Homo sapiens: one gene and its partner. The protein of the gene in region 2 purifies or fractionates together with the protein of the main gene of each other region. This does not show direct contact. Each region holds a gene or a part of one and is shown on either strand. Other genes may lie near its edges.

Region 1 (3,500 bases), on a different chromosome or scaffold from region 2:
TTCCCCTTTCTATATCAGTTATATTGAACTAGGGGCCCACCCTATTCCGGTATGACCTCATCTGAACTAATTACATCTATGACAACCCTATTTTCTTTTTTTTTGAGACGGAGTCTTGCTCTGTCACTCAGGCTGGAGTGCAGTGGTGTGATCTTGGCTCACTGCAACCTCCACCTCCTGGGTCAAGCGACTCTCCTGTCTCAGCCTCCTAAGTAGGTGGGATTACAGGTGCGCACCACCATGCCTGGCTAATTTTTGTATTTTTAGTAGAGACGGGGTTTTGCCATGTTGGCCAGGCTGGTCTCCTGACCTCAAGTGATCCGCCCACCTCAGCCTTCCAAAACGTTGGGATTACAGGTGTGAGCCACTGCATCCGGCCAACTCTATTATCAAATAAGTTCATATCCTGGGGTTTGGATTTCCACATATGAGTTTTTGAGGAACACAGTTTGACCCATAACAACAACCATGGGCACATTATTTAATAGGCTTTAAATCAAGGGCCAAGAGTTGCCAGTGTGTGTAGGTTGCCAGCCTGCAGTCCTTGTCTAGAGGGCCCTTAGTGTTTGAGAAGGGGCACAGTAATGGAATTAGGCAGTTGTTTGTGACTTCAAATCCAGGGGAAACCAGACTGACTAAGTATTTTTATTTTAAACAATTGTATTATCATATGGACAACTTAAAGTCGAATTAAGATACTGTCCTCTTGAATATGAGTACTCTTATATACAGGGCAGGACTGATTATCTGAAGTTACGTTCTGTGCCAAGAGGAATTAGGTAAAGGAAAAAGGAAAAAAACAGACAAGAACTTTGAATTGGGCTTCACTCTGTAGAGGTCGGCAAGCTGCAGCCCATGGGCCAAATGTGGCTTACTGTCTGATTTTGTAAACAAAGTTTTTTTTCCTTTTTGACTCATTACTTGGAAAGAGATGGAGGGAAATGGCAGAATTCTTTGAATGGCAGGGAGACAGTTATGTCCCATGCTTTGGGTGTTCTGGCTTTACATGAGCGGAAAGTTAGGATGACCCTCAAAATGGGGAGTGTAAAGTCTGGTTTAGATATTCTTTGTTATGTGCTTGTCCTGCCTCCAACAATTAGAAATGTTTTGGAAAGTGAATATGTATCCAAGCAGAGGAAATAAAGCATGAGAACTGAGCTTTAAGAAAATTCCTGGTTTATTTTTATAGGTTCTTCAGCCACTTCAGCAGCGATTCTTAAGAGTGATAAACCAAGAAAACTTCCAGCAGATGTGTCAGCAAGAGGAAGTCAAGCAGGAAATCACTGCCACACTAGAGGCCCTGTGTGGCATTGCTGAGGCTACCCAGATTGACAACGTAGCAATCCTGTTTAATTTTTTAATGGACTTCCTTACCAATTGCATTGGATTGATGGAAGTTTACAAGAATACCCCAGAGACTGTCAATCTCATTATAGAAGTTTTTGTTGAAGTTGCACATAAACAGATATGCTATCTTGGAGAGGTAAGCACTTTCTAATTTTATCCCCTCAGGATTAAAACTCTTTGAAGCTGTAATAAAATAATAGATCTTTGCTTAAAATTTGATTAGTATTATCTTAAATAATATTTTTATTCCTTCAAAAGATTTTTAAAAAAGATTTTTGAAAAGAACTTATAATTTAGAGAAAGTCATGTTGAATGAATGTAAATTTTTTTTTTAATTTCTTCTAAAAGGAAACAGGATACATATACAGAACGTTCAGATTTGTTACATAGGTATATGTATGCCATGGTGGTTTGCTGCACCTGAATATAAATTCTTGTCCTAAAATTTTGTTAGAAAAGGGGTAAAATTAAAAAAAATATACTCTTAATATATGCTTTCTAGAAATTATTGTTTTAATGTAGTTTAAAGCAAGAATTATTGCTACTGTTGGAATTCGGAGTTAATTTATATAGATTATATTTTAAAATTTTTTTAATGTCAGTGTACCAAGTAGCATAATTTGTGCATTTTTTTTTTTTTCAGTCCAAAGCTATGAACTTATATGAAGCCTGCCTTACTTTGTTGCAAGTGTATTCTAAGAATAATTTAGGGCGGCAAAGAATAGATGTTACAGCAGAAGAAGAGCAATACCAAGACCTGCTTCTCATTATGGAACTTCTTACTAACCTGCTGTCAAAAGAATTCATAGATTTCAGTGATACAGGTAAAATGTAACGTGATGGTTTTTAAACTTTGTTGTTATCCTCCTTTTTATTAAATCAAAGGATTGTTTTCTGTAAGAGACATCTCATGAGGAAATTCAATTTATGGAATAAATGAAAGAAGATCTTTGTGGTCAAAGTGAGGGTGAGGACCAGTGGCCCTCCTGCTTGCCTTTCCTCTTGTAAGAATAATAGAAATAGTATCTCTCATTCATTGAGATCTTACTAAATGCCATGCACTGTTCTTACCTCTCACAATGGTATGAAGTCAATCCCATTGTTATTCTCACTTTATAGATGAGGAAACAGAAGCACAGAGAGCTTAAGTCACTTGGCCACAGATACTTAGCCAGGACTGGGATTCAAATCCCAGCCTGTGACTCCAGATGCCAGTCTCTTCAGAGTTACACTTCCTGACTAATCACTTCTCCATGTTCCTCACGGTGGCCACCCCAGAAACCCTAGCACTTTCCAGAGTGTGGCTTGGAAAGCCCTGTTGGTGTAGGAAGCACTCTCTCTGGAGTTAACAGCCCACACTTTGAAGACCTAGCCTAGTGTCTCACCTACAGTATGATGTGAGGGGAGTTGATTAGCCTACCTGTGTCTTTACTAGCTGGTCAAATGGGTATGATAATAAATACCTTTCAGTGTGTTTGAAGGATCAGCTGTAAAGTGTCTTTGGTGCCTAGCATTGTGTCTGACAATCAGTAGGTAAAAGATAGTTGCTGTTACAGGCAAGAACCTGATCAGTAATTTAAACCTCATATATGTGTATAGTTTTCAGTGCTGTAGAGTTCACTCCCCTCCTATCTCACTGCCAACCTTGACTTCAAACAAAATGGATCCTGTTTCATGACAGAAAAATGAATCATATCTAGCCTCTCCTATTATATGTTGTGCAGACACGTGTGGTAGTGGACATTTTTGGCTTCTTCCTTGTAAGATTCTCTTTCTAAGTTGGGTGCTATAATATCCACTTGACTTATTTATCCCAATCCTTGAGATTGTTCTGTTTCCTTAATTTTTTCGTATTCCTTATTCACTGGACCATGTCTTTTTTTTTTTTTTTTAAATTCTTGGGCAACGGTTTTTCCAATATCTGCCCTGAGCTAGGTACCATCAACTTCACAGTGTAGAAGGTTTACTCTTTATTTTTTTTGCAGTTAACTAGGGGTACCAAGGTGAGATAGTCTGAAAAGCACTGTACAAATTCACTTTTCCTCAGTGAATTCTTTCTGGTCTGTTTTTAGGCCCAGCCTTTCACCCAAGTTTTCTAACTTTCTTCAGGTCAGTTCTGCTTAATCCAGGAGTTCTTAACTTTTTCTTTCTTT
Region 2 (3,853 bases):
CTTAATCCTGTGTCATCAAGACTTAAAAATAGATCATTTTATCCTATCTACTCTATATAATCTTCAAAGATTTAAAAAAAAAAAAAAAAAAAAGAACTGTTGCTGGAGTATACAGCCAAGTTCTCTAAGAAATTCTTCCCATTCTGGCCAGGCACAGTGGCTCATGCTTGTAATCCCAGAACTTTGTGAGGCCGAGGTGGGCAGATCACAAGGTCAGGAGCTCGAGACCAGCCTGGCCAACATGGTGAAACTCCTTCTCTACCAAAAATACAAAAATTAGCTGAGCATGGTGGCAGGCGCCTATAAGCCCAGCTACTTGGGAAGCTGAGGCAGGAGAATTGCTTGAACCCAGGAGGCAGGGGTTGCAGTGAGCCAAGACTGTGCCATTGCATTCCAGCCTGGGCAACAAGAGTGAAACCCAGTCACAAAAAAAAGAACACCGAAAAAAGAAAAAAAAACAAAAAAAAAAAAACGATGGCTTACGTCTGTAATCCCAGCACTTTGGGAGGCCGAGGCAGGTGGATCACAAGGTCAGGAGATGGAGACCATCCTGGTTAACACGGTGAAACCCCATCTCTAGTAAAAATACAAAAAAAAATAGCCAGGTATGGTGGCAGGCGCCTGTAATCCCAGCTACTCGGGAGGCTGAGGCAGGAGAATGGTATGAACCCAGGAGGCGGAGCTTGCAGTGAGCCAAGATTGCACCACCGTACTCCAGCCTGGGGGATAGAGCGAGACTCCGTCTCAAAAAAAAAGAAAGAAATTATTCCCATTCTAATGAGCCATGAAAATTTTATAGAAGCCCTTACTTTATGATGACTATGCATCTATAACAATTATTCTCAACTCGTTCCAGTTATTCTGCTCCCAGTTGAGAATAACTGTTTTAGATGCATAGTCATCATAAATTTAAAATGGACATCATCACCTAATTCTTATTCAGGTTCTTTCTAGCTTGAAATACCTGCAAGTCTCTGAATATTGGTGGATAAAATGACAAAGATTCTATCAGAGCTCCTCTATCTTCCTAACTGCTCTTGGTCTTTGTTGATTCTTTCACTATCACTTGTTCCCTTATCCATGGGTACTATCCAAACTTTATCCTTTATTCTATCAATCCTAAGTATTAATCACAGGGCAGAAACTATTATCAGTTTTATGCTTTTATCTCTACACTTAATTTATTGGCGAATTCACCAACACAACTCCACAATAAACTAATTTTTCATGTATGCTTTTGTTTCTATCTGTAGTTGCTTAGAAATCTTCGACAATCGAATGTTGCACCATGAACTCAAAACGTCTGAACTAAACTCATCTTCAAACAAGAACTCCTTCTAAATGAACCTTTTATTCAGAGGTATCATTGAGTCTCCTAAGCTGGTTATCTTAAAGCTATTACCTCCCTCTTACCATTCCTTCATTCCCCCTTAGTCGAACTTTTTAAAAAATCCTTTTATTTGTCCTTTAAAAAGTCTTTCGTTGCCAGCTCATCTTTTCCAGTCCAAATGACACACTAATCAACTATATCTCATCGTTGACTACATATATATGCCTAAGTTACTGCCAAAAGCTCAAAACAGATTTTACCAAGTACAACTTCTCACCCTTCTACCCATCTTGCACACTGTTAACTAACCTTCCTTAAAAAAAACCTTACATATCACCCCCCTCTGCTCAAGAACCTAAACGATATAATGGATCAAACCTTTAACTCATTACTATGTTTTACGTTCTATCCTCAATGAAAGACCTCTGTTCCAATCAATTCAGGCTCACCGCTCCAGCAGAGATGAAGTTATTGCAAACTCTGCCTTTGTTCACTACTCCTTTCTTCCAAATGCTACTCCACCTTTCCTCTTCACTTATCTACTTATTAACTATTAATTCTTTTGTTGTTGTTGTTGGGGGATTAGGGACAGGGTCTCACTATGTTGCCAAGGCTGGTCTCAAACTCCTGGTCTCAGGCGATCCTCCTGCCTCAACCACCCAATGTGCTGGGGCCAGGTTCAGTGGCTCATGCTTGAAATTCCACCATTTGGGGAGGCCAAGGCAGGCAGATCGCTTGAACTCAGGGGTTCAAGATTAGCCTGGGCAACATGGCAAAACCTAGTATCTACAAAAATAAAAAACAAAACAAAACCAAGGTGCTGGGATTACAGGTGTGAGCCACCATACCTGGCCTACAGTACTATTATAAAGTTGTTAAAGTATTGTTTGCTTAACAAATAAAGGTCTTTTTCCAACTCAGGTATTCCACCTTATGTTACAGAAAAACACAACTGTAAAATTGTAAGAGGCTTCAGTTTTTACCAAATTGAAATTTGGTAAAATTTTGAGAAAATTTTGAGTTTTAAAATCTCAAAAGTTATTCAAATTTTTCAATTTCAGTAAGTCAATTCTAATTAATTTATCTCTTTAAAAAGTCTTCTGCAGTTACACACTTAATCTCTAAGTGTTTCATGTATTAGCTTTGTCTCACCACATATAAAACTACTTCAGGGCCAGGCGCAGTGGCTCACACCTGTAATCCCAGCACTTTCGGAGGCCAAGGCAGGTGAATCAACTGAGGTCAGGAGTTCGAGATCAGCCTGGCCAACATAGTGAAACCCAGTCTCTACTGAAAATACAAAAATTAGCCGGGCATGGTGGCGCACGCCTGTAGTCCCAGATACTCAGGACACTGTGGCAGGAGAATCACTTGAACCCAGGAGAAGGATGTTGACGTGAGCAGAGATCACACCACTGCACTCCAGCCTGGGGAAGAGAGTGAGACTCCGTCTCAAAAACAAAAACAAACAAACAAAAAAGAAAATTAATTCAGGACAAAGTCTGTCTTTCATAAAACTTATCTTCCCAACAGGTACCTTGCACATTTTAAGCATACATATCAGGCTGACTGATGAAAACATACATCCTCCTTAATGGCTTAAGTTGCCCTTTTTTTCTTTTCTTTGAGACAGGGTCTGGCTCTGTCACCCAGGCTGGAATGCAGTGATGTGATCATAGCTCACTGCAGCAGCCTCTATGTACCCAGCTCAAGGGATCCTCCTACCTCAGCCTCAGCCTCCCAAATGGTTGCGATTACAGCTACGTATCACCACACCCAGCTAATTTCTTTCATTTTTGGTAGAGACAAGGCCCCTCTATGTTGCCCACGCTGGTCTTGAACTTCTGGGCTCAAGCAATCCTCCTGCCTCAGCCTCCCAAAGTGCTGCAATTATAGCCATGAGGCACCGTGCCAAGTTGCCTTTTTTAAAAAAAAATTTGCCAGGCATGGTGGCTCACGCCTATAATCCCAGCACTTTGGGAGGCCAAGGCAGATCACCTAAGGTCAGGAGTTCAAGACCAGCCTGGCCAACATGGTGAAATCCCGCTTCTACTAGAAATAGAAAAATTTGCTGGGCATGGTTGCACATGCCTGTAATCCCAGCTACTCAGGAGGCTGAGGCAGGAGAATCGCTTGAACCCAGGAGGCAGAAGTTGCAGTGAGCTGAGATCACACCATTGTACTCCAGCCTGGGCAACAAGAGCGAAGCTCCATCTCAAAAAAACAAAAACAAAAACAAAAAAAAATTCATCCTCCTTTTTACCTGAAAGGACTACAGTTTCCAAGTAAAGCAATACCAATTCTTTGTTAAATAGTGAGAGTATATTTTGTATACTGCTTCCAACAATCTCTGTATTTAAAAAATACAATCTTGATATATATATATACACAAATATATATATATTTCTTTAATCAGAAATCAAGAGCTGGTAGTATAACAACATTTCACAATGATAAAATGGGAACTAATCTGCTATTATATAATGGTTAAAAGCATTAAGAGTAAAATCTGTTTCAGACAGA

Evidence for each region. The genes of interacting proteins can lie anywhere in the genome.
Region 1: the proteins of OCIAD1 (region 2) and XPO4 purify together in Homo sapiens (co-immunoprecipitation; 2 studies listed by BioGRID and IntAct, with this or other methods). This does not show direct contact.

The regions. Positions count from the first base shown.
Region 1 is NC_000013.11:20,794,747-20,798,246, reverse strand, and holds part of XPO4 (exportin-4), read left to right. Parts: intron 1-1,189; coding exon 1,190-1,483; intron 1,484-1,990; coding exon 1,991-2,171; intron 2,172-3,500. UniProt on the Homo sapiens protein: Mediates the nuclear export of proteins (cargos), such as EIF5A, SMAD3 and isoform M2 of PKM (PKM2). In the nucleus binds cooperatively to its cargo and to the GTPase Ran in its active GTP-bound form.
Region 2 is NC_000004.12:48,833,883-48,837,735, reverse strand, and holds part of OCIAD1 (OCIA domain-containing protein 1), read right to left. Parts: intron 1-3,853. UniProt on the Homo sapiens protein: Maintains stem cell potency. Increases STAT3 phosphorylation and controls ERK phosphorylation. May act as a scaffold, increasing STAT3 recruitment onto endosomes. Involved in integrin-mediated cancer cell adhesion and colony formation in ovarian cancer.